Linked DNA regions of Homo sapiens. The protein of the gene in region 1 purifies or fractionates together with the protein of each later gene. This does not show direct contact. Each region holds a gene or a part of one and is shown in the gene's direction. Other genes may lie near its edges.

What was found.
Region 2: the proteins of ABI2 (region 1) and SASS6 purify together in Homo sapiens (affinity purification with mass spectrometry; 2 studies listed by BioGRID and IntAct, with this or other methods). This does not show direct contact.
Region 3: the proteins of ABI2 (region 1) and CYFIP2 purify together in Homo sapiens (affinity purification with mass spectrometry; 3 studies listed by BioGRID and IntAct, with this or other methods). This does not show direct contact.
Region 4: the proteins of ABI2 (region 1) and PCMT1 purify together in Homo sapiens (affinity purification with mass spectrometry; 3 studies listed by BioGRID and IntAct, with this or other methods). This does not show direct contact.

Annotation. Positions count from the first base shown.
Region 1 is NC_000002.12:203,324,070-203,331,698, forward strand, and holds the start of ABI2 (abl interactor 2), read left to right. Parts: upstream 1-4,324; 5' UTR 4,325-4,445; coding exon 4,446-4,562; intron 4,563-7,629. UniProt on the Homo sapiens protein: Regulator of actin cytoskeleton dynamics underlying cell motility and adhesion. Functions as a component of the WAVE complex, which activates actin nucleating machinery Arp2/3 to drive lamellipodia formation.
Region 2 is NC_000001.11:100,101,394-100,109,187, reverse strand, and holds part of SASS6 (spindle assembly abnormal protein 6 homolog), read left to right. Parts: intron 1-1,183; coding exon 1,184-1,378; intron 1,379-1,470; coding exon 1,471-1,560; intron 1,561-1,634; coding exon 1,635-1,814; intron 1,815-2,194; coding exon 2,195-2,276; intron 2,277-3,284; coding exon 3,285-3,421; intron 3,422-6,104; coding exon 6,105-6,233; intron 6,234-7,794.
Region 3 is NC_000005.10:157,317,336-157,325,129, forward strand, and holds part of CYFIP2 (cytoplasmic FMR1-interacting protein 2), read left to right. Parts: intron 1-2,426; coding exon 2,427-2,593; intron 2,594-3,319; coding exon 3,320-3,467; intron 3,468-5,606; coding exon of another isoform or gene 5,607-5,681; intron 5,682-6,585; coding exon 6,586-6,739; intron 6,740-7,794. UniProt on the Homo sapiens protein: Involved in T-cell adhesion and p53/TP53-dependent induction of apoptosis. Does not bind RNA. As component of the WAVE1 complex, required for BDNF-NTRK2 endocytic trafficking and signaling from early endosomes.
Region 4 is NC_000006.12:149,787,589-149,795,382, forward strand, and holds part of PCMT1 (protein-L-isoaspartate(D-aspartate) O-methyltransferase), read left to right. Parts: intron 1-2,365; coding exon 2,366-2,470; intron 2,471-5,960; coding exon 5,961-6,081; intron 6,082-7,794. UniProt on the Homo sapiens protein: Initiates the repair of damaged proteins by catalyzing methyl esterification of L-isoaspartyl and D-aspartyl residues produced by spontaneous isomerization and racemization of L-aspartyl and L-asparaginyl residues in aging peptides and proteins.

The DNA of each region.
Region 1 (7,629 bases):
AGAGCTTAATACAGCGTCCTAAAAGCCAGTGTTATTGATAACAATGATCGAAACATACAGAAAATAAATGTAAATTGGAGGTTTTCCAGGCATGTGAAATATTATGTAATTTATATGTAAATTGCACCACCAACTACCCAAGTGCCCAAGCCAGCAATCTTACCACCAACATTGACTCCTGTCTTGCATTAACTTCCATATTTAACCATTCACCAACCTGTATTGATTTTACCTACTAAATATTTATTACTCCATCCATTTCTTTGCATCTCCTCTCCCTGGAGATCACCATCATTTCTTAGCTGGATTGATTTCATAATCCTCAAACTAGTGTCTGCCTTGAGCATTGTTTCCCTGGTCTTTTCTCCATAGTGCATCCATCCTGAATTTATCTGATGAATACGTGAACATTTTGAATTTTCCAAGATATGAGGGAGGTCAGTCAGTATATAACGATTATATATTGTAATTTGATATTTGTTTGACCCATTTTTAGCCTGAAATGAGCAGCAACATGTTCTTATAAAGGAGATAGGCTGAATGTGTGTGGTGGCTCATACCTGTAATCTTAGCACTTTGGGAGGCCGAGGTGGGCGGATCACCTGAGGTCAGGATTTCAAGATCAGCCTGGCCAACATGGTGGAACCCCATCTCTACCAAAAATACAAAAATTAGCCTGGCGTGGTGGCGGGTGCCTGTAGTCCCAGTTACTAGGGAGGCTGAGGCAAGAGAATTGCTTGAACCTGAGGGGCAGAGATTACAGTGAGCCAAGATTGCACCACTGCACTCCAGCCTGGGTGACAGAGTGAGATGTTCATCTAAAAATAAAAAATAAAAAAAAGTAAAAAAAAAAAGATGCCTATTAAATCATATACAAAATTAATTGTTTTTATGCATTTTTAATTTTTTTTTCAGAGACAAAAGTCTATGTTGCCCCATACTGGTCTCAAACTCCAGGGCTGAAGTGATCCTCCTGTCTCAGTCTCCTGAGTAGGTAGGACTCCAGGCACGAGCCACCCTGTCCTGCTAGAAGTTATGGTTTTTAAAGGTAAGATGTGCTTCTATTACATGGGACTTAGAAGGGGCTAATAATTTTTAAAACACTGGAATAAATTTAAGAAAGATATTTTTTTAAGATGGGTTATAACTTCACAACCTCATACATGGGTATATTAGATTTGTATAATTTTGAAAATCTTCTTGTACTAAAGCTCTTAAATATGGCTTCTTAGAGCAATGAGTTTGCTTATTTACGTTTATAAGAAGTTCATGTGAAGTGTGTACAACTATTATAATTGTAACTCTCTAAGGGCTTGAAAATGCACTTTTATCATATCAGTTCATCTGAAAAACTGTAAAATTGAACAGATTTCAATTACCTTCATCAGCTTAAACAATGGAGAAGTAGTGGAAGATTTTCATGAGGTACACAATCTCATCCTTGAACCTAATAACTATATACTCTTTTACAGATTTTGTAGTTATCCTTTTTTGCTTAATCAATCTTGGTGGCAGCAAAGTGTTTTGTTTATGTCCTTGCATCTCAGATTCTGCTGTGTACAAAGCACCTCTCTAGATGGAGTTTCCCAGCTGCCAGAAATTGGAATCATAGACTTTTTGAGCCAGAAGGGCCGTTTCATAGGCATCAGCTGGGAACTTGTTAAACCTACATTAATAAATTGGGCCAGACCAACTGAATAAAGAACTCTGGAGGTGTGGTCCAGCAATCTGGTTTAGAAAGCCCTCCAGGTGATTCCAAACCACACTCAAGTTTCAGAATTCCTGACCTGAGTTTCACCCTTTGATTTCTCTTTCTTTTTCGAGACAGAGCCTCCGTCGCCCAGGTTGGAGTGCAGTGGCGCGATCTCGGCTCACTGCAACCTACGCCACCCTGGTTCAAGCGATTCTCCAGCCTCAGCCTTCTGAGTAGCTGGGATTACAGGCACCCGCTTCCACACCCAGCTAATTTTTGTATTTTTAGTAGAGACGGGGTTTCACCATGTTGGCCAGGCTGGTCTCGAACTCCTGACCTCAGCTGATCCACCTGTGTCGGCCTCCCAAAGTGCTGGAATTACAGGCGAGAGCCACCGTGCCCGGCCTCACCCTTTGATTTCTTGATAAGGAAACTAGGTCCAAAGAGATTGTCACTAATTAGAGAAAATACTAGAATCTTTTCTAGGTAATTTCTAGAATGACGAAACATCCCAGAGGGAAATTTGTTTATTAGGCTAATTGCTAAGCCATAGTTGAAAAAATGCTGGGTGGGAATAAGTAATGATAGGGGAAGAGTCTGTCTACCATTTAACTCACCTGATGAGCTTCTTCAACATTATTTTTTGATCTATTGAAGTTTAGTCTGAAAGAAAAGTTTGCTTCATCTAACATTTGTTTTATTCACTTGATTATTCATATGTCGTATTCACTGAAGCAAGTTGATGTGTCATTTAAATAACTACTCATTTCCATCACTCATGCTCTCAAACTAATGAATCTTAGTGTGTGTGACCCTGCAGCTTTCATTTTTAACAAGCTCCTCACACTGAAGTTTGAGAACCACTACTACAGAAGATGGTTAAAGTGCTTAAGAATAAAACTAGTTGGACTAGACCAACATTTTCAATATCCTTTAATTTAGGTTCCACAGTGAAAACTCATACATTCTGCTAATGTATGTATCATGAAGCCAATATAACATTAGGGTTTGCTCCAGATATTTGTAATGATATGGTATTAAAGTGATTTTTTTTTTTTTTGAGACGGAGTCTCGCTCTGTCGCCCAGGCTGGAGTGCAGTGGCACGATCTCCGCTCACTGCAAGCTCTTCTCCCAGGATGACGCCATTCTTCTGCCTCAGCTTCCCGAGTAGCTGGGACTACAGGCGCCCGCCACCATGCCCAGCTAATTTTTTTATTTTTATTTTTAGTAGAGACGGGTTTTCACTGTGTTAGCCAGGATGGTCTCGATCTCCTGACCTCGTGATCCGCCCGCCTCGGCCTCCCAAAGTGCTGGGATTACAGGCGTGAACCACCGCGCCCGTCCTAAAGTGATTTTTTTTTGAAAGTATAAGTTTCCTCATCATCTGAATGAAAAAAATTCACTGTAGGAGGGCCAAGAGATCACCAGATTAAGAAAAGTGTTGAAACAATGGATCTTGTTCTAACTACACAAGTCTAAGATGGTACTGCCTGGAATCAACTTTGATTTTCCACAGCACAAATAAAGGTCATGGCTTCATATCTCAGCAATGGTCAGGAGTTTTAGTTTTTCCAGATTACATTGTGTGGGGTAGTCTGATTTAGGAAAACAAGACACAGTATCTGGAGAATAAAAACAGAATTATAACTCTGCAAGAGGAAAATTATCTGCCTTGAATTTTTGTAGCACTTAATGTTTTTTCAAGGTATTTTCACAATAAACGTTGATTTTATCTATGTAACAGCCCTGTGAAGAAGGCAATTACTACTAGCAAAATCGTTTTCAAAATTTTAAATACTGAATCCATGAATAGGAAAAAGGACAGCGAAGTTGATAGCATTAGAGAAATGACAGAAAAGGTTATGAGTGAGGAAGCGAATCATAGAAATGGCAAACATAAAAAGCTGAGGCCCACGGCACCGCAAACCAGGAGAGAAAGGGGCTAATCTGGCAGGGGAGAACAGCGTTAGTGGGGAAGTGCAAAGAGGCAGGGGCGCAGGAAAGCTGGGGTTAGGAAACTGCAATTCACTGCAACAAAGAGGATGAGGTCAAATCTGAGAAAAATGAAGTCAGGTGGCATTGAAAGCTGCGTGGAAGTTTTATTCCTGCCCTGTTGAGGTGTGATCTTTCACAGAGGAGGGTCCCAAGAGTGGAGGCTGTGCCCTCCTTCGGCCTCCCGTCAGCAGCAGAGGGAGAAAAGCCTCGAGAAGTTCCCTAGGCCGATGACCTCCATGGGGACGGAGCCGAGATGAGTCCCGGAGGGAGCCGGCAGGAAGCCAGCTGAGCAGGGTGGTGTGTTCCCGCCGGGCTAACAAAGGCCGCCGGGAGGTGGGGGCTTCTCCAGCCGCTCCAGCGGCGGGCGGGCGGCGGAAGGGTTAACTGCACCACCAACTCCCGCGCGCATCCCGGCCCCTACCCCCGCCGTCGCTAGGAGACGCCGGAAGTGGGGGAGGGGCCGGCGGCGCGGGCGAGGGTGGGAATCTTTTTCGGGCTCCCGGGGGCGGAGGGAAGGGAGCGCGCGTGCGCGCGCCCGGCCGGCCGTCGCCGCGGTGACCGTCCTCGGAGTCCGTCGGCTCGCGCCCCGCCCCCGTCGCCCCCTCCCCTGTCGCGCGCTGGGGCTGTTTCTCGCTCCTTCCGAGTTACCGCCGCCGTCGCCGCCGCTCCTCCTCTCCCGGTCCTGGGTTTCCTTGGCGCTGCGGCCGCCGCTCCCTCTGCGACCTGTATGAGGAGGAGGAGGAGGAGGATGTGAAGATGGCGGAGCTGCAGATGCTGCTGGAAGAGGAAATCCCGGGGGGCCGCCGGGCCCTCTTCGACAGCTACACAAATCTGGAACGGGTGGCCGATTACTGCGAGAACAACTACATACAGGTGCGAAGCATCCCCAGCTGGGCCGCGTCGGGGACCCCCCCGCCGGGGGCCGCGCGCCTCGGGGCGTGGGGCCGAGGCCGCCTCGGGGACACGGCCCAGCGGAGCCCCCGATGGGGGTGGGGAGCTGGGTGAGGGCTGGGGCTGGTGAATGGGTGGGAATTCTCCGGCTGGAGAAACTGCATTTTAAAAACCTTTAAAAAAGCGGTGAAGCAGTTCTCGGCGTGGTGCGTGTGTCGCGTCCCGCCTCCTCGCCGCTCCCGCCCTCGGCCGCCCCCGCACTCCGCGCCGGTCAGCGTTCCGGATGGCGGAGGGGGCGGAGAGTGGCATTTTCTGTTTGACGGAATCCTGCTCCCCACCTTAGGGTAGGGGTGTCGCGGGTGTTGACGGGTTACCTCCATCCCCCAAATTCTGGATGATTTTTAAGGGGTTATCTTGCTGCAGAGTGAAGTGCTTCAGGCTTCAGTTTTCTGTTCCTGTGAATGCTTCAGAAACCCTTTCTTAATATTTTATGTTCTAAAGGGGATACGGTAGAAGAGCAGCAGTTTCTTGTTGGAAGTTAATGCCATTTTTTTCCCTATGGAGAAGGATGATGAGCTGATTCCCCCCTCCCTCCTAGTTCTGTTAGAATAGGCAGTTTTCCTGGGGGTGGGAGGAGGACAGACTATGACTGTTTCTTAGAGAGAATTGGGAAGATGAACCTCCTGGTTTAATTTTTTTTTTTTTTTTTTTTTTTTACCGTGATGGATCGTTTGGCTCAAGGGCTGATAGTGGTAGGGGCGTGTGTATGGAGGCGGGGGATACCGGATGGTATGAGATCCAGCTGCTCCTGGATGAAGCAAAATATTCTGTGGATTAAAAAAATCCTTCTTTAAAAATTACTTGAAAGGATAGCAGGTTAAAAGGCACAGTTTGCAAAATCTAAAATCTTTTGCTTTTTTTTTTATGGTTATTTTGAATTATGGGTTCTGCCTCCATTTTTTTTCTTTCCCGTTTAAATTCTCTTGGGATAAAGATGGAAATGGAAGCAATATGTTAAACTGTTTCTTCACAGTCTTTTTTTTTTTCCTTTTTTCTTGCTCCCACCTCCATCTCTCCAGGGATCCTTCTTTTTTCTTTTCTTTTTGAGACACAACCTCGTTCTGTAGTCCAGGTTGGAGTGCAGTGGCGCGATCTCGGCTCACTGAAACCTCGGCCTCCTAGGTTTGAGCAATTCTCATGCTTCAGCTTCCCGAGTAGCTGGGACTACAGGCGCCCGCCACCACAGCCGGCTAATTTTTGTATTTTTAGTAAAGATGGGGTTTCACCATGTTGACCAGACTGGTCTCGAACTCCTGACTTCAAGTCATCCACCCACCTCGGCCTCCCAAAGTGCTGGGATTATAGGCGTGAGGCACCTTTCTTAACATTAGCTATATAGGAAAGCATTTTCATGTCTTAGTGTAAATTTTAAAAAACAGGTGTTACAATTTTATAGGTTCATAAATTTTGTAATGGCCACATTGTTGATCGCGGAAGTGAGATTTTGTTTGATTAGACATACTGTTATCTTGTAGACAACATTTGTATTTGAGAATGACCCGAACCACTGTATAAACCTGTTCCTTCGAAAGAGGCAGTTGACTATGGCTACTAGGAAAGGAATGTAGGCAAGATTAATACAAAAAAATACAAATGTCCACTTGTAATGTACTTTGCTGATACAAGTGGGGTAGAAAAGATTCAGAGGTTCAGGCCTGGGCGATAAGAGTGAGACTACATATCAAAAAAAAAAAAAAAAAAAGATTCACTTGCTCAATTTTTCGCTAAAATTGAAAGTCTTTTATGGCCTAGAACTGTGTGAGGGGTGGATGGTACATACCTAGTAGGAGAGGCTGATCTTGGAGGAAATTAATACCATGTAGTTAATTTATACTCTGTAGTGCACTGCTGGTACCAAGGAGGACTGGAGGAAGCAATGCTGTTCTGAGGGATTTCACAATCTCTAGTAGAGGCAAAACCTAAAGGAATGAAGTGGTAATTCCATTGCCTTGTGCAGCATATTATGGGGAAAGAGTTGCAGGTCAGAAGAGAAACTGAGGGTGGAAAAGTGGATTGCAATTATTACCAGTAAGAAATAAAAAATAAACAGATTTCTCTCTCTTTTGCAAGATGATTTCTTATTGTAATTTGAAGGTACAAGTTCCTCTTAAGTTATAATTGCTATATAAAGGTAAAAGGATAAGGATTATTAAAGCTGAAAGGTTAAAGGCATCAGCAGTTTTCTTTTTAAATATTTTATACATTTCCTTCAGTTGAAAAGAGAAAAACGTTACTACTATCAATCTCTGTTTTAGCAATGGGACTCAAAATTTAGTGTGGTGACATTTTAAAATTTAAAGCATAAATATTGATTAATATTAATTTAATAGAAATGAACTTAGATTTTAAAATAGTTTATTTCTTCAGTTTAGCATCTGAAGTATATTTTACACTTTCTCTTTTTTGATTATCATTTATTTTAGGATGCCTTAGGTATATAATTGGTACACTCTCAGGATGATAGCTCTTATATGATTTGTTGATTTGTTGGGAAAGTTGATAAATAGAACGTGGTGACAGTGGATTTGTGCTGATCCAGCTGTACATTTGGTTGACCAGCAGGGGTTTTGATGCTGCCTGGACCCTGCAGTAGATGAAAGTTAATTCACAGGATCAGTGATCAAATGGTCAATTTAGCCTTTTTTTTTTTTTTTTTTTTCTGAGACAGAGTCTCACTCTGTCGCCCAGGCTAGAGTGTAGTGGCGCGATCTCGATCTCTGCTCACTGCAACCTCCGCCTCCTGGGTTCAAGCGATTCTTCTGCCTCAGCCTTCCAAGTAGCTGGGACTACAGGTGTGTACCACCATGCCTGGCTAATTTTTGTATTTTTAGTAGAGACGGGATTTCCCCATTTTGGCCAGGCTGGTCTGGAACTCCTGGCCTCAGATGATCGACCTGCCTTGGCCTCCCCAAAGTGTTGGGATTACAGGCGTGAGCCACCGCACCTGGCCAATTTAGCCTTATTATAGCATCATGTCTTAGCCACTAGC
Region 2 (7,794 bases), on another chromosome or scaffold:
ACTGGTTGTAAAGCATTTGAACCTTCATGGTACATTGGTAGTCTAAATGCTTCAGTATAATGCTCTGATTTCATTATTCTCAGCCCTGGAACTGGTCATTATATAAACAACCTCATTGCATTGATTTTTATATGATCTAATGAAAATATTTCCTCCAAGATTTTCATAAGACTTGCAAATTGTTAGTTCTTGGAGCTTTTTTTTTTAACTGCTGAGTATTCAGTTACCTATTTTAAGTAACAATTTTTAGGCATTAGTGTCCTAAAAATAACAATTGCTACCATTTATTGAGTTTTACTGTGTGCCAGCCAAAATGCTAGGCAATTTACGTAAGGATTTTTATGAAGGTTAAATGAAATAATTTATTAAGTATTTGTTATTTCTGTTTTACAAATGAGGGAACTGAGATTTAATTTAGGGAGTTTCAGTAATTACCAAGATCACACAGTAGAAGAGCCAGGATTTGAATTTTGTTTGATACTAAAGTTTGTGCTCCTAAAACCACTATAGTCACAATACTGTATAATTATTTTTGGAAACTTTGGTTAAGAACTAAAACTATCTAGGAATATTGTATCCTGGGCTTTCATATACCAGCAGCATTTGGGTTGATATTAGCTGATTGGGAAGAGATCTATTGTAGATTTTTTAAAAATCTATTTTTAATGAACAATTATTGTTTATTTTGCTTGAAAGAGTGAACAGAGAGATCTGGAAATGTTAACATTTATTGACATAGAAAGATATTTGTAATACGTGAAGAAGGTAGATTATAAACTGCAGAGTATCAACCTTTAAAAAACAATCTGTACATGTAAGCAACAAAGAAAAATGTTAAGTCTACATTGTGGCGGCTCTCACCCGTGGTTACCCTTGGAATCAGTTGTGGAGACATCAGAAAATTATTGTTAAAAGTTTTAAAGTTACTGTAATTTATTCATAAATTAGAATTATTTTCCCTTGATATGATTGAATCAGATAGTAGAATATTTTACAATTATATTCCAGATATATGCTACTATACCATTAGAAAGACATTTATGCTTTTAAAAAAAAATCTGTACTAAAACTTTAAAATTATTAAAGACTTTTTTTTAATATGTTAGACATCTTAATTATAAATAACCAGATGAGGCAGCTTCCTTTTTTCATAATGCTTAATTTCTTTCTTTTCCCATTCTAGGAGCTACAGCGGACTAAGCAAGAAGTCCTCTCTTTGCGAAGAGAGAATTCTACACTAGATGTTGAATGCCACGAGAAAGAAAAGCACGTTAATCAGCTACAAACAAAAGTGGCAGTTTTAGAACAGGAAATCAAGGATAAGGACCAGCTTGTTTTAAGAACAAAAGAGGCATTTGATACAATCCAGGAACAAAAGGTCTACTTTTAAATTTTTCTCAGAAATTGATAATCATATTTATAAGTAAACACAAATGCCCTAATTATTCATGTTTTTAAAAAATATATCAGGTGGTTTTAGAAGAAAATGGTGAGAAAAATCAAGTACAACTAGGAAAGCTTGAAGCTACAATAAAATCATTATCTGCAGAACTTCTGAAGGTTTGTTTTAAAAATTTTATAGACTAGTATTTCATTAAATTACATAGAAATATACATATGAAGCTCTTTTATAGGCAAATGAAATTATCAAGAAGTTACAAGGGGATCTGAAAACTTTAATGGGTAAGTTGAAATTGAAGAATACAGTTACTATTCAGCAAGAAAAACTCTTGGCTGAGAAGGAGGAAAAATTACAAAAGGAACAAAAGGAATTACAAGATGTTGGACAGTCTCTTCGAATTAAAGAGCAAGAGGTAGTTAATATTTTAAATTTTTATGTTGTAACTAAATTTTTTCCTCGTTTTAAAAATTTATGCTTTGTTACATTAACAAATGGCTTTGGTCTTGTTTTTTTTTTTAACAAAAGAACATGACTAGATTGAGTAGATGGTAATAACCTGTTTCAGTTTGGAAAGTTAGTTATCATGATTCAGATACCTTGATTGCTCATGTATGTCTATGTTTGTATACACATGTAAATATTTTATTACATAATTGAGCTAATTCCTTTATTCTCATTTAATAATAGTAGTAGTAACCATTTATGTAATTATTTAGTTAATAATAATACATTCTTCAGTTTTTATTTAACCTTTATTTTGCTTGACTTATTGTGATGATTGATATATTTCAGGTATGCAAATTACAAGAACAATTAGAAGCTACAGTTAAAAAACTTGAAGAAAGCAAACAACTTCTAAAAAATAATGAAAAGTGTAAGTATGTTACGTGTTAATGTAAATGAGGTTTGTAGTTTTATTCTTTTATTTTTTTGAGACACGGTCTCACTCTGTCACCGAGGCTGGAGTGCAGTGGCATGATCTCAGCTCACTGCAGCCTCCACCACTTTGGTTCAAGTTATCCTCCCGCCTCAGCCCCCCAAGTAGCTGGGACTAAGGTGTGCACCACCACACTCAGCTAATTTTGTGGGTTTTTTTTGTAGAGACGAGATTTTATCATGTTGCCCAGGCTGGTCTTGAACTCCTGAGCTCAAGTGATCCACCCGCCTTGGCCTCCCAGATTGCTGCGTTTAGGTTTACAGGTGTTAGCCATCGTGCTCGGCTGTAGTTTTATTCTTAACCTGAAAATTTTATTCGAATTCATAAAAGTAGACATTGGCCAATATATAAGTAATTTCTGCTTTAAATATACTGTCTTAATGCCTTTTCTATAATAAATTTATATCATCTGCCCAGTAAAAGAGTTATCATCTTTATAAAGAAAACCATATCCCATAGGTCAGTAACCCACAATTAAAACTGTTGAAAATGTTGACTGTAATTTATTGTTTAAATTCTTCATTATTCCTTTTTTTAATAGCTGTGTTTACCTAATAATAACAATATGAATTGTTTGAAAACAAAACATAAAAATAAGATTTTAACTAACATTTTCTCAGTTTATACTACTGGGTATCATACATAAGATTGTGAATTTTAAGTAAACTGTAAGATATTCTAGAAGTGAAATCTTTCAAAGAGTTGCTTGACTAGCAGAAATATGTGCTTCGGAAAGTAATACAATAAGGAGTCCTATGTGGCAGCTTCTAAAATAAGAAACTTTAATGACAAAAATTTAGGTGAACCTATATTGCTCTCCTGTGATGTCAGGTAGTTGTAAAAACTTATAATTTAAAAATCTTAATATAATTTTTAAATGTTTAAGATGATTAGAAAAATAAACAGTCAATATTCTTTACCTTGCTTCTTGTTCTTTTATTTAAGTAATCACGTGGTTAAATAAAGAACTAAATGAAAATCAGCTAGTGAGAAAGCAAGATGTATTGGGACCTTCTACTACTCCGCCTGCACATTCCAGCAGCAACACAATCAGAAGTGGAATTTCTCCTAACCTGAATGTGGTAAGATTTAAAACAAGATGTGAGTGATCTTAGTGAATTTCCTGAAACAAAAGTATTTCCAGATTGTTAGGAAGTTTCCATGATTTAAGGTGCTGATACCAATACAAAGTGGAGTCCTACAATTGCACTGAAATAGAGTTTAAGTTGCCCCTGGAAGTGGAACAAAGGCACACTTGCTCTGAACAGAGGCTGAGTTTCAAGAGCACATTTCTTTTTTTTGTTTTGTTTTGTTTTTTTTTTGAGATGGAGTCTCGCTCTGTCGCTCAGGCTGGAGTGCAGTGGCGCGATCTCGGCTCACTGCAAGCTCCGCCTCCCGGGTTCACACCATTCTCCTGCCTCAGCTTCCCAAGTAGCTGGGACTATAGGCGCCCACCACCACGCCCAGCTAATTTTTTGTATTTTTAGTAGAAACAGATTTCACCCTGTTAGCCAGGATGGTCTTGATCTCCTGACCTCATGATCTGCCTGCCTCGGCCTCCCAAAGTGTTGGGATTACAGGCGTGAGCCACCGCACCCAGCCAAGAGCACACTTCTTTATAAGTCTTGACTGGATATTGAAATCTTTCAATGCTAACTAAAGTAATACCAAATATACTGAAAAACTTGAAAACACATAACGTAAAACATTTAGGAGACTTGAAGAAGAGAGAATTCAGGGTTTAGGCTTAAGCCTAAACTGAATTCTATCAGAAAAAGAAAAGAAAGTAAAAAAGAAAAAAGTCCTATTAGCAGGCTTGTCACCTTTAGATTCTACAAGAAACTGGTTATGAGATATAAACTTTCTAGCTCCCAGGACCAGATTTTTTTCTCTTTTGAGACAAGACCTCACTCTGTTGCCGAGGCTGGAGTGCAGTGGTGGGATCATGGCTCATGGCAGCCTTGACCTCCTGGGCTCAGGCAATCCTCCCACCTCGGCCTCTCAAAGTGCCGGGATTATAGCTGTGAGCCACTGTGCCCAGCCCTGCTTTTTTTTTTTTTTTTTTAACCTGAGAAAAAAGGGAGGCTGGGCACGATGGCTCATGCCTGTAATCCCAGCACTTTGGGTGGGAGGCTGAGGTGGGTGGATCACCTGAGGTCAGGAGTTCAAGAGGTCAGCCTGGGCAACGTGGTGAAACCCTGTCTCTACTAAAAATACATAATTCAGTTGGGTGCAATGGTGCATGCCTATAATCCCAGCTACTCGGGAGACTGAGGCAGGGGAACTGCTTGAACCCAGGAGGTGGAGGTTGCCATGAGCCAAGATCGCACCACTGTACTCCAGCCTGGGCAACAGAGTGAGACTCTATCTCAAACAGAAAAAAGGCAGAATAGGAAAAGCAGCTTCTTACATTCAGAGGTGGTTTGGTACTATCTGATAGTTAGGCCTAGGTGCTGCTAGGAGCTTACCTAGCATCCGCACATAGGCCTGGGGCTCTCCTGTTGAACACAACAATTTCATGGAATATTAACATCAGGCAAGGTTACTCTGTGACTCTGTCAATACAAAAACAAGACTGTTTCATAATCATGCCTGAATACAGACAAAAATATGAACATTGCTAAATCACAGATATGGCCCATAAGCATCCTCATATCCTGGCTAACATGAATGGCTGCTGCTGCTTTAATTACAGCTTTGACCTTAATACATTCCTCTTGCTTTATTAGATAGGATTTATTCAGATACCCAGTCATACATTTATCCCCATTTCCCAGTAGCTTCCAATCCACAGCAAAGCACCACTTAAACTTTTTCTTAAATCACCTAACATGTGCCTAAATCCAATAAATAAGTCCCTTTTAATACCCACTTTTGGAGATACCCATGTTTGTTCATGGTGTGCAGTTTCCCTTGTTGCAAGGAGCAATAAATCTAGCTCGTATATCTATACATGGGTTCCTGGTGGTCCTTGGCTACAGGACATTGGCAGAAGGTTTAAAATTCAGATTCCTAATTGAATTTTTAACCTAATCTACTCTGGTAAGTCAGAGTACGGGATGTCTAAAGAAGGGGAAAGATTGCTGTTAAATTGGAGAAGGGTGCAGAAAGAAGTGCCTGGGGCTGAATTACAAACTTAAAAAAGATTTTTTGTCCGGCTTAAAATTTGAATGACTGATGATAGCTGTGTGAAAGGTGTTTTTTTGTGTGCATCCATTAGTGTGCACAAATGCTTCTCAAGATTTCTGTTACAACTGGTCTCAGTATAAAAATAAACTTTTTCATAACGTTGGTTAATGTGTGGTGCCAGTATATTGAAAATTAGTGGCAAAACCAATTACTGTCTCAATTAGTCCATTTAAGAACACTGATCTTGTTTTTATGCAGTCTGACAGAAAATTAGTTTTATTTTATCTCTGATTGGCCTATTGATCTCCAGACTCCCCCATTCCCCCCTTTTTTAGGAGACTTAGAGTGAAACAAGTTGGTTCAGAAGCTTGGCTTTAACTTAGTACAAAGGCAGGCCCAGTAGTTTGTTTTATCCAAGCTTGCACACCTACCTTGAAAAGCCCTCTAGTTCAAAGTTATCCTAGCCCCATGGTAGATAATAAAGCAGAGTTGTGTGGCATGATAAACAAGACTGGCGTCTGAGATAGTGCTCTCTTAATTATTAGTTATTATAACAGATGCTAATGCCACCTGATCAACAAATACTATTTAGAATTAATTTATCATCTTTAATCATCTTTATGTTTTTATTTTTAGGTTGATGGTAGACTGACTTACCCAACCTGTGGGATTGGTTATCCTGTCTCCTCTGCATTTGCATTCCAGAATACCTTCCCTCATTCGATATCTGCCAAAAATACCAGCCACCCTGGTTCAGGAACAAAGGTAGCCAAATTAACTAATACTTGTTCTGGGAAAAAATATAGCAACCTATTAGCATACAAACATTTCACATCTTTTAAAAGTTCATTTATTCTTTGGTCAGTTGTTAAGTAGTAGGTAGTGTATTAGATAAATACATTACTGAATATCTAGTATCTATGTGTACAGGAAATATATGCACTATATATTTCTTGAGTCACTGTAATTTCTAAAATCTTGACATCAGTCTGTTTAAACCTCACTTATTTCTACTCAACCTCTCCTTTTTTTTTTTTTTTTTTTGAGACAGTCTTGCTCGGTTGTCCAGGCTGGAGTGCAGTGGTGTAATCTCAGCTCACTGCAGCCTCTGCCTCCTGGGTTCAGTGATTCTCGTGCCTCAGCCTCCTGAGTAGCTGGGATTACAGGCATGTGCCACTACACCCAGCTAATTTTTTTGCAATTTTAGTAGAGGTGAGGTTTCGCCATGTTGGCCAGGCTGGTCTCGAACTCCTGGCCTCAAGTGATCCGCCTGCCTTGGCCTCCCAAGGTGCTGGGATTGCAGGCCTGAGCCACCACGCCCGGCCAGCCTTTCCGTTTTTATTCATTCTTCTACTTGTGTCTCCTACGCTCTCAGGCCTGGCTAGGATTTCTGACTTCATACTGTTGGAGTCTGAGCTATGATTTGGAGTCCATTGCTAGAATTTAAAGGTCTGGTAGGGCAGGCTTAAATCAAATTCTAAAATTTAGTTCTGACAGCATTATCTCAGATAAGATATGACTAGCAATCCCCCCAACCCTTGATATATTTGTTAAGGCTTTCTTCTACCTACTTCTTTTTCCTCATTTTTATTATTATCTTAGATTTATGTATTTTTTATGTATTATAATTTTGTTTTCACAATAGTTTAATCCACCCAGACCAGTCACTGCTTTTATTTTCATTGCTAACTTCAGATCCAGGTTTATTTTTTCTTAAATAATGAGACAAATAAACATTTATGAAAAAATATTGTATAAAAGATAAAATTGAGGACTTTGAAACTGGTATTACAAACTCTATCAAATTAGGTCTGGGCTACTCTAAAAATAAGTTGGCTGTGTTGCTTAGGCATGTGCTCTTTTTAGCCATAGCCTTATTATTGCCAGTAGCTATGGAGAATTCTCAGTTAAATGAAAATTAAGCCTGAGTTTTTATGCCTGGAATACTGTTATGTAAAGAGTACTTAGATGCATATAACTGGCTCTTCTTGCATTGCTTATTAAGGAGAATTAGATATGTGCATTCGAAGGAATGTCTATTGTTTTATTATCAGTTTCAGTATACTCAAGTGTCGTTGTATCTTGGGATCATTTTTTTTCTTTAGAATTATAAGTGAATTCACAGTTGTTTTTTATTTAAACAACTTTCCAGGAATATATATATAATGTCCAAAATGAGGACAAGTACTACTAGAGACAGTTGCCTACTTGGTAGGACTAAAGATGGCTTATAAAATAATACTATCATTCTTATAGGTCTTGTGGAATCAGAGGAATCATTATAATAATTATGTTCTTAAATACAGGAGCAAGACTTTCAGTGTTT
Region 3 (7,794 bases), on another chromosome or scaffold:
AAAGTAGTAACCTGCCTGTACCATGTTATTCCATTCTGAATCCCCAAATAGGAAACACCATTCAACTTGTTAAGCGATTCCTTGTGGTATTTATCTCCCTAGTTCTAACAGGCTTATGAGACTATTTCTTGGTTTTTCAGTTTATGACATTTTCTATTGATTTTCTACTTTGGGAAATGAGGATATAGCTCTCTCCTTCCTACCTCCCATCCCTGCAACACACCTGGTTTCCTTCCCCCATCTTCCCATCGTGGTAATTTTACACTTTTTGGTAAAAATCAATGGTTACCTTATTATTATTATAACCAAGTAACTGTTGTCCATCACTGAGCCACACGCTCTAATGTGAATCCATTTATTTTCTTGCACAACTTTTTGTTCTTCATAGAATTAGCAATACTGTATTTTTTATTTTGTTTTCTATGAGTCTATCAAAAAGGCAACCCCAAACCTACCAACAAAATGTAAAACTCCTTACAAAATAGTCCATCACAGTCATCATTTGATGAGTTTTGGTATTATTCTTTTTTTCTTGGAGGCATTCCTCCACAAGCTCTCTTCTTTCCAATCTGCATGGGTTTGTCTCTAGACCAGCCCCGCCACTGATCCAAGATTCTCCTCATTATTTATTATCTTGGGAATTCCCTTTACCTCTGTCCTGTCCTGTATCCCATTCATATATCTTCCTCTGTGAAGTATTGAGATCTTTTGCCCATTTTTAAAAAATCGGGTTTCTGTCTTCCTATTATGGAATTGTGAGAATTCATTCCATATTTTAGATCACAAGTCTTCAGTCAAATATATGTCGCAAATATTTTTTCTCATCAGTGACTTTGCCTTTTCATTTTTTAAGGGTGCCTTTTGAAGAGCAGCTGTTTTTAATTTTGATGAAGTCCAATTTGTCAGTTATTTGGTGGTTAGTGATTTGGGGGTTTCAGCTAAGAAATCTTTGCCTTGTCTAGAGTTGTAAAGATTTTTCCTTTAGATCCAACAGGCCTGCCCACTCCTCTGTATTTGGAGCCATTCTGAGACATCTTCATTATTTACTCCTTCCTTTTTCCTAATGTCTCCTAGTTATATCTGTAGCCAGGGGCCCAGATTCTGTTATGATCTAACAGTCCTCTAATGCTTCTCTCCCATTATTTCTCTGCACTAAAGCTCATCACCAACAAAATTGTTGTACTGTTGGTGCCAATGAAAACCATCACCTCCTGAGTTGTTTTCATACCAGTTCTATCTAAAAATGTTCTTTTTCTTCCTTTAAGTTTTAGAGAAAAAAACAGCCTTAGGGTCTGAGCTCATTCATTCATTTATTTGTTCCTTTTCAACAGAAAATGTGTCTGCCCACCATGGACCCAGACACTGGCAGTTGGGCGTGCACAGCATAGCTGGGCCCTGTCCTGTGTATTTCCAGTCTGGTGTAGAAGGTGGAACATGCCATTATGGGTGTGATCTGTGTGGCAGTTGTGAGGTGGACGATCTGCCACATGCCTTTCCCTCTGAATTCTGAATCAATTGAGAAATTAATATTAGAGGCCAATGGAGTCAAAGGCTCAGACTTACTGCTGGTAAAGCTAGACTAGAGAATGTGGTTTTCACCCAAGGCCACACCAGTGTTCCTATGCCTCCTACATCTCATTAAACTTGCCACTAGGTAATAGGCAAAGCAGCTGCATAGATACACGCCTCCCTTCCTCGGGATGGGCAGGGGATGGTTACTGCAAGAAGCAGCCAGAAACCTAGAAGGGAGGCCACATACTTGCAGGCAGGCAGGTCCCAAAAGAGCGAGCCAAGGTCAGGCCAGGCTCCTCTCATCACACGTGCCTGAATCCCCATCTCTCCAAACAGATAAGTGAGTTAGGGTAAGGAGAAGGGAAATAGGGGAGTAGAGGCATTCTCCCCCATGACTTCTGCAGGAGAAGTTTTGATTTTATAAACTCAAGCAGCAACTGGCCAAACGGTTTCAAAAACAAAGGTTGTAAAAATTCTTTAGAAAATTTTATGTTAAAAAAGTTCTATTTGATGTTGTCTGTGAGTGCCTGGTCTATGGAGAGGCCTTCAAAAGCCAAGGCACTTCTCAAAATGCTCAAATTGTGGCCCATGGGCCAGCTGCTATTTGTCAGCAGTGAACAACAAAATTGGGAGCTCATGCGAGGATGAAAATCAGTTGCATTGCGAAGAATGCTGTTAGTTGAGCTGACATTTGTGTTTTGTAGCAAGACTTTCTCAATGAATGAAGCCAAGTGCTGATATACGTACATTCTGGCACACATCTCTTACCTAGCCATGCGCTGGCACTTTGAGTAGCACTGGCCTCATGCCTCTGGACATCTCACTCCCCGCCTCCCCTGGCAGGGCGGTGATGGGTAGTAGACAGCTGGTGTGCTGGACATGGTGAACATGACCCTTGGCCTCTTCCTGCCCAGGTGATCGCCATGATCAAAGGCCTGCAGGTGCTCATGGGCAGGATGGAGAGCGTCTTCAACCAGGCCATCAGGAACACCATCTACGCGGCATTGCAGGACTTCGCCCAGGTGACGCTGCGTGAGCCCCTGCGGCAGGCGGTACGGAAGAAGAAGAATGTCCTCATCAGGTGGGTTTTCAGATGCCTTCAGGAGCATATCAGACATAAGCATGCCAGGTACCCATCAGAGAGGATGTCCTGGCTCAGCCACTGAACACACATGGGTCCTTCCAGCAAGCTCCAGAGGGCTCTTTAGGAGATTGGGCATTTGGGATGAATTAAGCCTTCATCTCTAGAAGTCCATATCCACTGCTATCTAGCTGTGTGAACTTGGTCAGGTTGCTGACCTTCTCCAAACCTCAGTTTTCCTCATTTGTAAAATGGGGATTATAATGCTACCTGCTGCCTGTTGGGATGATGAAATGAGATGGTCCATATATAGACCTAAGCACATGCAGCATGGAGTAAGTATGCAGCACATCTAAGCTATTATGAAAACTAAGCACACACAGATTTCATAAGACCGGTGAGACTCCCCTATAACCAGAAAGGAAATACAGACCTCTTGCCTCACACAAGTTCTGTCTCACTCGATGGGCTCAGAGCTGAGTTCTCAGACATCCCTTGGACATCAGAACCATGTAGGACACTTGTTTAAACACAGATTCCTGGACTGTACCTTAAATCTGTTAAACCAGAGTTTTGGAATTGGGGCAGAAATGAGCATGCTTTACAAGCACCCCAAGAATTCAAATGTGGGTGTTCCTGGGACACCACGGGCCCTAGAAACACAAGCTTGTAGTGACGTTTTCCCATGGTGAAACCTGGTCTAAGTCTTAGTTCTTCCTTCCCCAGCGTCCTACAGGCAATTCGAAAGACCATCTGTGACTGGGAGGGAGGGCGAGAGCCCCCTAATGACCCATGCTTGAGAGGGGAGAAGGACCCCAAAGGTGGATTTGATATCAAGGTGCCCCGGCGTGCTGTGGGGCCATCCAGCACACAGGTAAGCGGCTCCAGGCACAGGCCAGCTGCGTTGACTCAGAGGCCAGCCGGGCTATGGTAGATCATCATGGCTGGCCATGGGCAGTGGGACTGGGAGCCGTCGGTCAGGAGGGGCAGGGTTGAGTGGCTGCTCCGGTCTTATTCTGCCATCTTGTTTTGATATAGGAAGGAGGACCACTGGCTTAAGATTCAGGAGACCTGGATTCTAGTCCTAGATACCTGTGTGACCTCGGGCACTTTACAGATCTCTCTGTGCCTCAGTTGTTTAAACTGGCTAATGGGGATAATACCACCACATCCACCTTGCCTGGCTATCTTCTAGTCCTATGAAGTATAGATTCCAAAGTGGAGGAGGAGGTTAAAGTGGAATCTATCTGCATGCATCTATGCTGCCCCTCTTTAATAAGTCCTGGCCCTTTCCCCTAAAAGTTCTGCCTCTGACTTGCTGTGTGATCTTGGGCAAGCACCTTGAGCTTTCTGAGCTCTGATTATCTTCTCTGTAAAATGAAAACTTTGGATGAGATTGTGTTACTAACAAAATATTCCTTAGTTCCACATCCTTCCAAAAGTGCAAGTATTGAAAGCCCTTGTCCCCTTAGAGGAAGTCTAGTATTTGGAAACACTCAGAGTTGCCAGCCAGAGCTTCTGCACAAGAGGTCGCCCGTGGCTTATCCAGAGCAGTCATAACGTTACAGAAAAAAAAGTCAATAATCTGGGCATCTTCGTTAAATCCCTGCTACCTACTTAAGGATAGGTAGTTTCTGGTAATATTTTTGATGTACTGGAAAAAGCAGATGGTTCTCATTGCAAGTTTAAGGGTCTCACAGGCCTCACTTCCCATGACCTTTAAGCCTCTCTCTGTTCTCAGTCACCCAAGATGGACCATCTGAGGCCCACCCCCGACCCTTCTCCCTGTGTGTGCGTCTGTGTCTGTGCTGGGGGCTGGGGCAGGGGAGAGGTGGGTTCTCGGCAGGGTCATCTTAACTCCCCTTGGCTTCACAGCCCTCTGCTAGTTTGCACCAATCTCACCGGCTGGTTGTAGAACGCCCCAAGGAAGCGTCTGCAAACAGTTCTGTGTAATATCAAGGGTTGAGGTCCGGGAGACACTGAGCAGGGCTTTCAAGTGTTTCTGTAAATTTTAAGACATGAGTGAGCAAGAGACAGACAAGGCACAAAAGACACTGGAAAGGAGGAGGAGGGGACTTAACAGGCAGAGAGAAAAGGAGAGGAGAGGAAGGAGTATTTGTGTAGATAATGTGAGAGGGGTGGGTCACCAGCAGTAAATCCCGCCTCACCCCCAACCTCTACCAGGTCATGCTAGGTGGCACAGACATGTTGAATAGACTCGTAGACAACCAGAGCTGGGAGCGCTATTAGAGAAACCTAGGCCCTCCCCCTCTCTTGCGGATGGGGAAACTGAGGTCTAGAGAGGGGAAGTGACTTGTCCAAGTCACAAGGTGAGTCCCAGGTGGAGGTGGGACAAGAACCCAGGTCTCCTGACACCCACCCAGGGCTCTGGTACGGTCTTCAGGACACAGTAGACATGGGCATCTTGCATAGTTGGGATAGAGACTGTTTTGGTGAATTAAATGCTCTGTTAAGTAAAAGTACGTGGGAAAAAAGTTCACCTTCTTATGGGTGAAACCAGTTTTCAGAGAATTAGAGTTGGATATCAACTGGACAGCACCCACAACAGATTAGACTTGGATTCTTCCTTTGAGGACTTGAGAGGCCGTCATGAGAAGAGTGCTTCTCGGCTCCTAGGGATGGTGAGACAGGCCCTCCAACAGGGCTGCAGATGGGGGACTGTCTGAGGCACTGACGGCCACTGTGGCTGCTTTCCCACAAAGGAAGCCCTGTGGCAGGGATGGTGGGTCACACGTTTCTGTGGCTGCTCTACCCGCATCAGTGCCAGGCATGTGATGGGGGAGATCCCAGGGAAGCTCCAGAGGCAGCGAAGACGAACGCGGTTGCTGGGAGGTTGGAGTGTCTCAGAGGTGGCCCCCGGCAGTCGCGGCGGCTTTCCCACCGTATACAATACCTCTTGCTTTTCTCTCTCTCTCTCTCTTTCTCTCTCTCCCTCTTCCCTGTCTCTCCTGCCCTCCCATTCCCTCTTCCTTCTCTCCTATCTATGTCTTAGGCCTGCCAGTGGTCCCCGAGGGCTTTGTTTCACCCCACTGGTGGCACACAGGGCCGAAGAGGCTGCCGATCCCTGGTATCACACCGCCTGGCTGGGTTGGTTTGGGTACCCTTCTCGAGGAGGCAGCAGGAATGGACTAGCCTGGCTCCTCAAGGCCCCTTCCAGCCCTAAGATTCACAGACAAATGATGTGGAGAGATCTAGATTAGCAAAGAGAACCACCCCACCGCACTTGCATCCTTTGCACTTAAGGCACCCTGTAAGCGGGAGTTAATTGTCTAGTAGCCTCCTGTGTAAGTACCAATGTTAACCCGCCTTCCACCCTGAACTTCAGCAGGCTGTGCAGTGCAGCTGATGCCACCAAGGGGGCGCCATCGCTCAGCCATGGGGTCAAAACGCTGAGGGTCAGGAACAGGTGTGGGAGGGGGTTCGTTCTGATCTTATCCCATTTCTCAGTTCCTCAGAATGTTAGTGCTGAAAGGGACTGGTGTGAGAAGGCATCTGGTCCAACCCCCTCATGTTACATGAGACAACTGAGGCCCAGAGTGGGGGCTTTGTTGCCTAAGGTCACACAGCAAATCAGCAGCAGTGCCTGGCCTTGAACCCCGGTCTTTTGACTCCCAGTCCAGTGCTCCACCCATGGCATCTGTGGCCCTCTGGGAAAGCAGGGAGTGACTCCAGGGTGACACGTAATGAGGTTCTCCTCTGATATACACGCCCTTGGCCAAGCAGAGCAGGGAGCTACCTGGTGTGGCCAGGTCCACTGGCCCAGGGATGCCACGGGGCCCGGGTTGGCCATGAAGGTTTTCACAGTTCCACATTTATTTCTCAAACCTTAAACTGGTGCTTCCTTAGGACAGTGCTTTTTAAGAGCAGACATCTGCAGAAAAAAAAAAATACATAAATACAACATGAAGCAACCTTTTTCCCCGGGGTAGAGGGCCAGCTTCTGACCTTCTCATCTTGCTTTCTTTTTCAAGCTGTACATGGTGCGGACCATGCTTGAATCACTCATTGCAGACAAAAGCGGCTCCAAGAAGACCCTGAGGAGCAGCCTGGATGGACCCATTGTCCTCGCCATAGAGGACTTTCACAAACAGTCCTTCTTCTTCACACATCTGCTCAACATCAGTGGTGAGCTGCATCCCATCCCTGCTAAGGCATGGGAGGAGGGGATGAGGGCTCTCAGAGCCGCTAAGACCACCAAGCCAGGCATTGCAAAGGGACGTGACCGTTGACCCTAAGGGGCACATATCACCACCAAGGAAAAAACACATACACTTTCCAGTGGGCTTTTGGAGCTAGGAAAGGCCAGGTTCAACTCAGCTGTTCTGACTTAGCTAAATTTGTCCAGGAGATACTTGTGGCTAATTTGTCATAAAGTCCTTAGTAGAGCGGGATCAAAAACAAGAATACGTACATACAGACACACGGATGCTAGACTTTTGCTACTCAGCCGCAACCAAGCGCTAATTAGTACTTGCTGCTGCCAGCAGGGGAGGCTCTCGAGCTGCATCCCAGTCCTGTGTTCTTCACACTTCCTCTCCTTTTAGTAAGATGTATGTCCAGAGCAGAGGAAGAGTAGTATCTCAGGAACATGAGTCTTCATATGTCTGCTGGCATTGACAAGAGTGATTGTAACAAACAGTACAAACTTCTCCATTAGAGAGTAGCCCGGGAAGGGCCTTCAAGGTCTCTAAACTGTATGGGATCTGGCAATTATCACACGCGAGGAGTCAAGGAGCCACAATCCAGTTGAAAGTGGGCACTCGGGGGCCTGTCTTGACACTGTGTTTGTATAATGAACACACTTTTTTTTTTTTTTTTGAGACGGAGTCTTGCTCTGTTGCCCAGGTTGGAGTGCAGTGGCACTATCTCAGCTCACCGCAACCTCCGCTTCCCAGGTTCAGGCTGGAGTGCAGTCGTGTGATCTCAGCTCACCGCAACCTCTGCCACCCAGGTTCAAAGAATCCTTCTGCTTCAGCCTCCCGAGTAGCTGGGATTACAGACATGCACCACTGTGCCCGGCTAATTATTTATTTTTTTAATTTATTATTATTATTATTTTTTGGTATTTTTAGTAGAGACGGGGTTTCGCCATGTTGGCCAGGCTGGGCTCAAACTCCTGACCTCAAGTGATCTGCCTGCCTCAGCCTCCCAAAGTGCTGGTATTATAGGCATGAGCCTCT
Region 4 (7,794 bases), on another chromosome or scaffold:
CTGACCTTAGGTCATCTGCCCGCCTCGGCCTCTCAAAGTGCTGGGATTACAGGTGTGAGCCACCATGCCCGGCCCAAATGTTTTTAAATCTTTGACATAATTTCTGACTTACAGAAATATTATGCAGATAGTACAGTTCCTGTGTACTTTTGTCCACACAGTCTTACCATTGGTAAAGCAAATCTCACCATTTGCTTTATCATTTATTCTCTCTCCCTTTATCCCCTCTCTCCTCTGTGTGTGTGTGTGTGTGTGTATGTGTGTGTATTATATTTCCGTTTTTCTGAGCTCTTTGAGGGTAAATTACAGGCATAATGCTCTTTACCTTTAACTTTTTTTGAGATGGAGTCTTGCTCTGTCGCCCAGGCTGGGGTGCAGTGGTGCAGTGGCACGTTCTCAGCTCACTGCAAGCTCCGCCTCTCGGGTTCACGCCATTGTCCTGCCTCAGCCTCCCAAGTAACTGGGACTACAGGCGCCCACCACCACGCCCAGCTAATTTTTTGTATTTTTAGTAGAGATGGGGTTTTACTGTGTTAGCCAGGATGGTCTCGATCTCCTGACCTCGTGATCCGCCTCGGCCTCCCAAAGTGCTGGGATTACAGGTGTGAGCCACTGTGCCCGGCCAATGCTCTTTACCTTTAAAAATAAGGACATTCTCTTACATACCCATAGTACAATTTTTGAAATCTGGAAGTCAGCATTGATATAACACTATTAGCCAATTTATAGACCTTATTCAGATTTCATCAATTATTCTGATAATATTCCTTATAGGAAAAGAAAATAGTAGATTGTGAGTTTTATTTGATTGTCATGTCTTTTTAGTTTCCTTTAAAGAATGACTGAGAAATGGTTCCTTATTCTTTTATGACCTTGAAAACCTTGAAAATTTTTACGAATATGGGCCATTTATTTTGTATAATGTCCCTCAATTTGGGTTTGTTTGATGTTTCCTCATAATTCAATATAGGTTATGCATTTTTGCCTGGCATATCCCAGAAATGAAGTATCTTAGCAGAGGCATTTGATGTCAGTGTGTCCCATAATTGTGGTGTTAACTTTGATCATCTGATTAAGGTAGTGTTGACCCAGTTTTTCCACTGGAGAACTTTTTTCTGAACTCCATTGTAAAATTACTATTTTTCCTTTTGTGATTAATAATTATCTGGGGCAAACCCTTTGAGATTATGTAAATATCCTGTTTATTTTTCAAATGTTAGTCCACTAGTTTTAGCTTCCATTTATGATTTTTACCTGAATCAATCAGTTATTATTGAGATGGCTGCCCAAAGGCTGATTTTCTTAATTTTTTCTATGTGCATTCATTATGTATCTATATATTTGTTGGGAACGGTTTTCCCTATTTTTCATTTATATATGTATAGAATGATGTATTAATTTATCACTATAGATTAATGGATGGGTATTTTTATCAACCAAGATCTGGTAGTAAATGTGTTTACTGCTATTGGATCTGATTTTTTTTTTTTTTTTTTTTTTTTTGAGATGGAGTCTCGCTCTGTTACAGCCCAGGCTGGAGTGCAGTGGCATGATCTCGGATCACTGCAATCTCCCCGTCCCGGGTTCAAGCAGTTCTCTGCCTCAGCCTCCCGAGTAGCTGGGATTACAGGTGGCTGCCACCATGCCCAGCTAATTTTCTTGTATTTTTAGTAGAGATGGAGTTTCACCATCTTAGCCAGACTGGTCTTGAACTCCTGACCTCGTGATCTACCTGCCTCAGCCTCCCAAAGTGCTGGAATGTCAGGCCTGAGCCACCACGCCCAGCCTGATCTGATTATTTTTAATAATGAGAATACTGGCTGGGTGTGGTGGCTTATGTATGTCATCCCAGCACTTTGGGAGGCCGAGGTGGGCGGATCACCTGAGGTCGAGAGTTCGAGACCAGCCTGACCAACATGGAGAAACCTCATCTCTATTAAAAATACAAAATTAGCCTTTGTATTTTTGTATTTGCTTATATATGCAAAGAATCTATTCCTTCCTTTTTGGAAGGAGTCACAAGAAACTAGTAATATTGGTTACCTTTACAGAGTGAAACCTGGATGGTTGGAAATGGGAGTAGGGTGGAGACTTTTCACTTATAAATCTTTTAATTTTTTTACTGAATTAATTAAAAGTTAAAAATTCACACACTGGAGGTCTAAAATTACTGAAACACATGATCTGAATGTAAGAATTCTAATCAAACAGTTTACTTAAGTAATACCTGGGCAGATAGCCAAGATAACTTGGTTATCTTGGTAGATGACAATAGTAGAAAAATTGGTAGAAAGTTGGCAACTTTATTTATATACCATGATGTGTGTACTTTAGTCTTAATGAATATTTTGTTTTCTTTTGGCAGCATGCATATGCGCTAGAACTTCTATTTGATCAGTTGCATGAAGGAGCTAAAGCTCTTGATGTAGGATCTGGAAGTGGAATCCTTACTGCATGTTTTGCACGTATGGTAAGAGTTTTATTTCTCACTCTGGCCCCAACAGAAGAATATTATATGATTTGGCTGTATGTTTTTTTAACTAGTGGTTTTCATGTTTATTTGTTTGTTAATTCTATTAGGATAGCAGTTGGAATGAGCATCACTTAGGATTTTGTTGTTGTTGCAAGTGACAGAACATGCAACCCAAACTGGCAGAGCTAAAAGGGAGTTTATTTAGTTCATATAACAGAAAAGTCTAGGGGTGTATACGGTCTGTTGTGTGGCTGGATTTAGAAGAGCAGATGTTGTTATTGACGATAGGGTTCTCTCTGTTTCTTGATTTGGCTTTACTTTCCTCCACATGTTGGTGTCATTATCCGGTAAGCTCTACCCTTGTAATCACAAGATGGTGGCCAGTAGCTCCCAAACTACCTTCTTCCAAGTTCTGATTTGGCAGAAAAGAATAGAATAAGCCTGGTTTTCTTTTCTTTTTTTTTTTTTTTTCTTCTTAAAAACAGAGGTTTTATTGCATTTGGTCCACAGTTGGTATTTCACCTTATCTCATGGTGCAGGGACCCTGGGTAGGGGACTCTCTACAGTACTTGGTGGGGCATGTGGCTGGGGGAGACAGAGCAGTATAGCTGGTCAGGCCCAGAAGGGGAGAAGGAAGGCTGGAGGCTCCTTAAAACCTACTGAGGGACCAGACGCGGTGGCTCACACCTATAATCCCAGCACTTTGGGAGGCTTAGGCAGGCAGATCACATGAGGCCAGGAGTTCGAGACCAGCCTGGCCAACGTGGTGAAACCCCATCTCTACTAAAAATAGAAAAATTAGCCAGGCATGGTGGAGCACCTGCAGTCCCAGCTATTCAGGAGGCTGAGGCAGGAAAATCCCTTGAGCCCAGGAGGTGGAGGTGCAGTAAGCCTTGATTGCACCACTGCACTCCAGCCTGGGCAACAACAACAACAACAAAAACCTACTGAGGCACAGTGTGGGGGGTGGGCTTAGCATGGAGAGGGGGTCAGGCTTAGCCCCGACAACTCAGAATTCTACTTCCTTGTACAGGCCTCAGTTTCCCCACCGGGCCCTGGGACATGTCTGAGGGTCCCAGGGAAATCCAGTCACTCAGGAGCCTGAGATATTTAGCATCGTAGCTGGGCCCCGTCTCCCAGGGGACTCATTTCCCAGCACCCTCTCCACTGTCCCTGCCCAGAATGAGCCTGGTTTCTAAACATTCCTGCAGATTTACCAGGATGAAGGTAAAACTTCTGCATTAGAAAAAGTGCTCTTAGAAAAATAATGCCTTGTTATACTTCTGCCTTTTCTCATCAGAGTCTTATCTGGTCAATGGCTATCCAGAGTATTAACTGGGGACCCACTAATATATGTTGGAGTAAAGGTTGATCATTGCTTAGATCATCACATCAGTTTGATTTGAGAAATATCGTGCCTGGAGGACAGATTGGAATATTCTGATCTAGTTAAATTGGGAGTTGTGGATCCACCTTGGACTAGAATCCATGTAACTTGCTATAAATGTATAATCAGCAGACTTACTAGAATGTAAGCTCCAGGGAGTTGGAAATTTTGTCTGCTCTTTTTTATCATGATGGTATCCTAAACATCTAAAACAATGCCTGGCACATAATAAGGACTCATATTTTCTCAGATGTTTTGCTCATTTTGTAGAGGTTAAGTCCTCATTAATGGATATCAGTGATTTTTTTTAAGGTTAGAAATGCCATTTAATAAATGACTCATTCTCTATACTTGACATGTTTATAGTTTTAGAGGATGTATTCATTTTAAAAAATCATTTGGTTTCTGAGTTGTTTTTCATAAAATGGCATTAATGTTTTTCACACATTTACCATGTGTGAAAGTACTTTGTGTTTTAAGCACTAGAGCCTGTGTTCTAAGTGCTACCCCATTTTTATGATGGGGTTTATGCCTTTTTCCTCCCCATTTTGTACTGAGGAACCTGATTCATACAAGGAATGATAGGCCGGGTGTGGTGGCTCACGCCTGTAATCCCAGCACTTTGGGAGGCCGAGGCAGGTGGATCACCTGAGGTCTGGAGTTCGAGACCAGCCTGGCCAACATGGTGAAACCCCGTCTCCACTAAAAATACAAAAATTAGCTGGGTGTGGTGGCACACGCCTGTAATCCCAGCTATTTGGGAGGCTGAGGCAGGAGAATTGCTTGAGCCCGGGAGACAGAGGTTGCAGTGAGCTGAGATCACGCCACTGTACTCCAGCCTGGCCAACAAAGCGAGACTTTATCTCAAAAAAAAAAGAAGGAACGGTTAACTTGCCAAGGTATGTATGTATGTAAGTGATGACACTTAGACAAGAACCCAGATAGTTTGACTTCAAAGCCTTTATGTGTTAATTTTTTAAATTTTTATATTTTTTCTTGAAACATTTATACTTAATATTTTAATTTACAAATAAATATGCAAAGAAGGGATTTTTGTTGTTGTTGCTTTTTGTTTGTTTTCTGAGACAGGGTCTCAGTCTGTCATCCAGGCTGGAGTGCAGTGGCACGATCTCAACTCACTGCAGCCTCTGCCTCCCAGGCTCAAGTGATCCTCACACCACATCAGCCTCCTAAGTAGCTGGGACTTAGGAGGCACATGCTACCACACCTGGCTAGTTTTTGTATTCTTTTGTAGAGATGGGGTTTTGCCATGTTGCTCAGGCTGGTCTCAAACTCCTGGGCTCAAGCAGTCTACCTGCCTCTGCCTCCCAAAGTGCTGGGATTATAGGTGTGAGCCACTGTATATATTTTCATGTTTTCTACTAAAAGCAGTAGAAACAAGTGTAGAAATTCCTTCCCATCAGGCGGGAGGCAGGGTGTGTGGTGGCTCAGTCCTGTAATCCCAGCACTCTGGGAGGCCAAGGCGGGCAGATCACGAGGTCAGGAATTTGAGACCAGCCTGACCAACGTGGTGAAACCCTGTCTCTACTAAAAATACAAAAAAATTAGCTGGGCATGGTGGCGGGGGCCTGTAGTCCCAGCTACTCAGGAGGCTGAGGCAGGAGAATTGCTTGAACCTGGGAGGCAGAGGTTGCAGTGAGCTGAGATCGTGCCACTGTACTCCAGCCTGGGTGACAGAGCGAGACTCTCTCTCAAAAAAAAAAAAAAAGAAATTCCTCCCTGTCAAATTCTTTATGTAACATTTTAATATTTAAAGTTATACTTTAGATGGAATTTAAATAAAAAATTATTGTACTACTATTAAATATTGGTAATTTTCTTCAAAGTTCTAGATTTAATCTAAGAAAGATATAATTTTTCTTAGTATTACAAGTTTTATTCAATGAGAGTGATAGTTGAGAAAGTTGTATATATGGTAAATAATTTATGATAAACTGAGTGTTTAGCAATCTATAGAAGCCTTAAGCTATTTTTGTTTTCTCTTTGTAGAATATGACTTTCGATAAGGAAAAACTTCAATAATACTTTAGAAAAACAAATTTAGCCCAATGAGCTACTGAATTGTTTTCTCTTTTCCAGGTTGGATGTACTGGAAAAGTCATAGGAATTGATCACATTAAAGAGCTAGTAGATGACTCAGTAAATAATGTCAGGAAGGACGATCCAACACTTCTGTCTTCAGGGAGAGTACAGCTTGTTGGTAAGTATCAGAAAACTTTAAAAATTTCTTCAGAGGATTTTTATTTTCAGAAGATCCAATGCAAGCTAAATAATACTCAGAGGTAATTATTGTATTTTTTTTTACAATCACTTTTAAGTACTAAAAAATAAAAACGATTATTTTTGCTCACCTAGTGTGTATTTTGCAGCCATCTCTTTGTGAGTTTAATTTTGTATTTTCCTATTAACCTCTGAGATTGAATTTTTTGTAATGTGTCTGACCATTAGGATTTTGTCTTTTGTGAAGTACCTGTTCAGATATTGGATTGCTTGTATTTTTGACTTACAGGGCTTCTAGCCCTTTGTCTATATATATAAATACATTTCTTCTCCCATCTGAGGTGTGCCTTTTCATCTTATTGGTACCCTTTTGATAATAGAAATTCTTAATTTTAATGTAGTCAGACTTACCAATTTTTTTCAGTGCTTTCTGTGTCCTTTTTAAGGATACTCTGAGACCATGAAGATATGTCTCTTATTATTTCTTAGAACCTTTATCATTTTTAGCTTTTCATGTTTAGGTTTTTGATCTTCCTGATGTTGGTTTTTGTGTATGTGTGAGGTAAAGGTGCAGTTATATGTTTTTGTGTATGAATATCCAGTTGTATTCCCCAGACACACTCAGTTTTGTTTAAAAGATAAAATATTGGCCAGGAGCGGTGGCTCACACCTGTAATCCCAGCACTTTGGGAGGCTGAGGTGGGCAGATCATGAGGTCAAGAGTTTGAGACCAGCCTGACCAACATGGTGAAACTCCGTCTCTACTAAAAATACAAAAATAAGCTGGGCGTGGTGGCGCACGCCTGTAGTCCTAGCTACTCGGGAGGCTGAGGCAGGAGAATCGCTTGAACCCGAGAGGTGGAGGTTGCAGTAAGCTGAGATCGCACCACTGAACTACAGTCTGGCGACAGAGCTAGAGTCCGTCTCAAAAAAACAAATAAAATAAAATAAAGGCCCGGGCAGCTCTAGTAGCCACAGCCATCCCCTAGAGGGATCTGGCTGAGGAGGAAGTGGAGGTGTTGCTTGCCTTGGCCTTTGCCCTGATCCTGTGTGGACACTGAAAGGGGAATACAGGAGTAAACCACACCAAAATGAGTCTCATGTTGCCAGTGAGGGACATGAGAGATCAAGAGATAGACGAAGGTCAAGTGACAGATCACGGGATTCATCTCATGAAAGAACAGAGTCTCAACTCACTTCTTGTATTAGAAACGTTTCTTCTCTGGCTGGATGTGGTGGCTCATGCCTGTAATCCCAGCACTTTGGGAGGCCAAGGCGGGCGGATCACTTGTCAGGAGTTCGAGACCAGCCTGGCCAACATGGTGAAACCCCGTCTCTACTAAAAATACAGAAATAAGCCAGGCATGGTGGCAGGCACCTGTAATCCTAGCTACTCAGGAGGCTGAGGCAGGAGAATCGCTTGAACCTGGGAGGCGGAGGTTGCAGTGAGCTGAGATCACGCCATTGCACTCTAGCCTGGCAGACAAGAGCGAGACTTCGTCTCAAAAAAAAAAAAAAGAAATGTTAACTTCTCCAACACGACAGCGCCATGTTGCATGAGAAAAAGATCACAGTTCCTCTCGTCCAAGCAGTCCTTGTTCTCCAAAAGCCTCTCCAGATGGTTCCATTAGCAGTACTGGGAACAGCAGTAGAAACACTAGTCAGTCAAGTTTAGATAATAGCTGTTAAGATA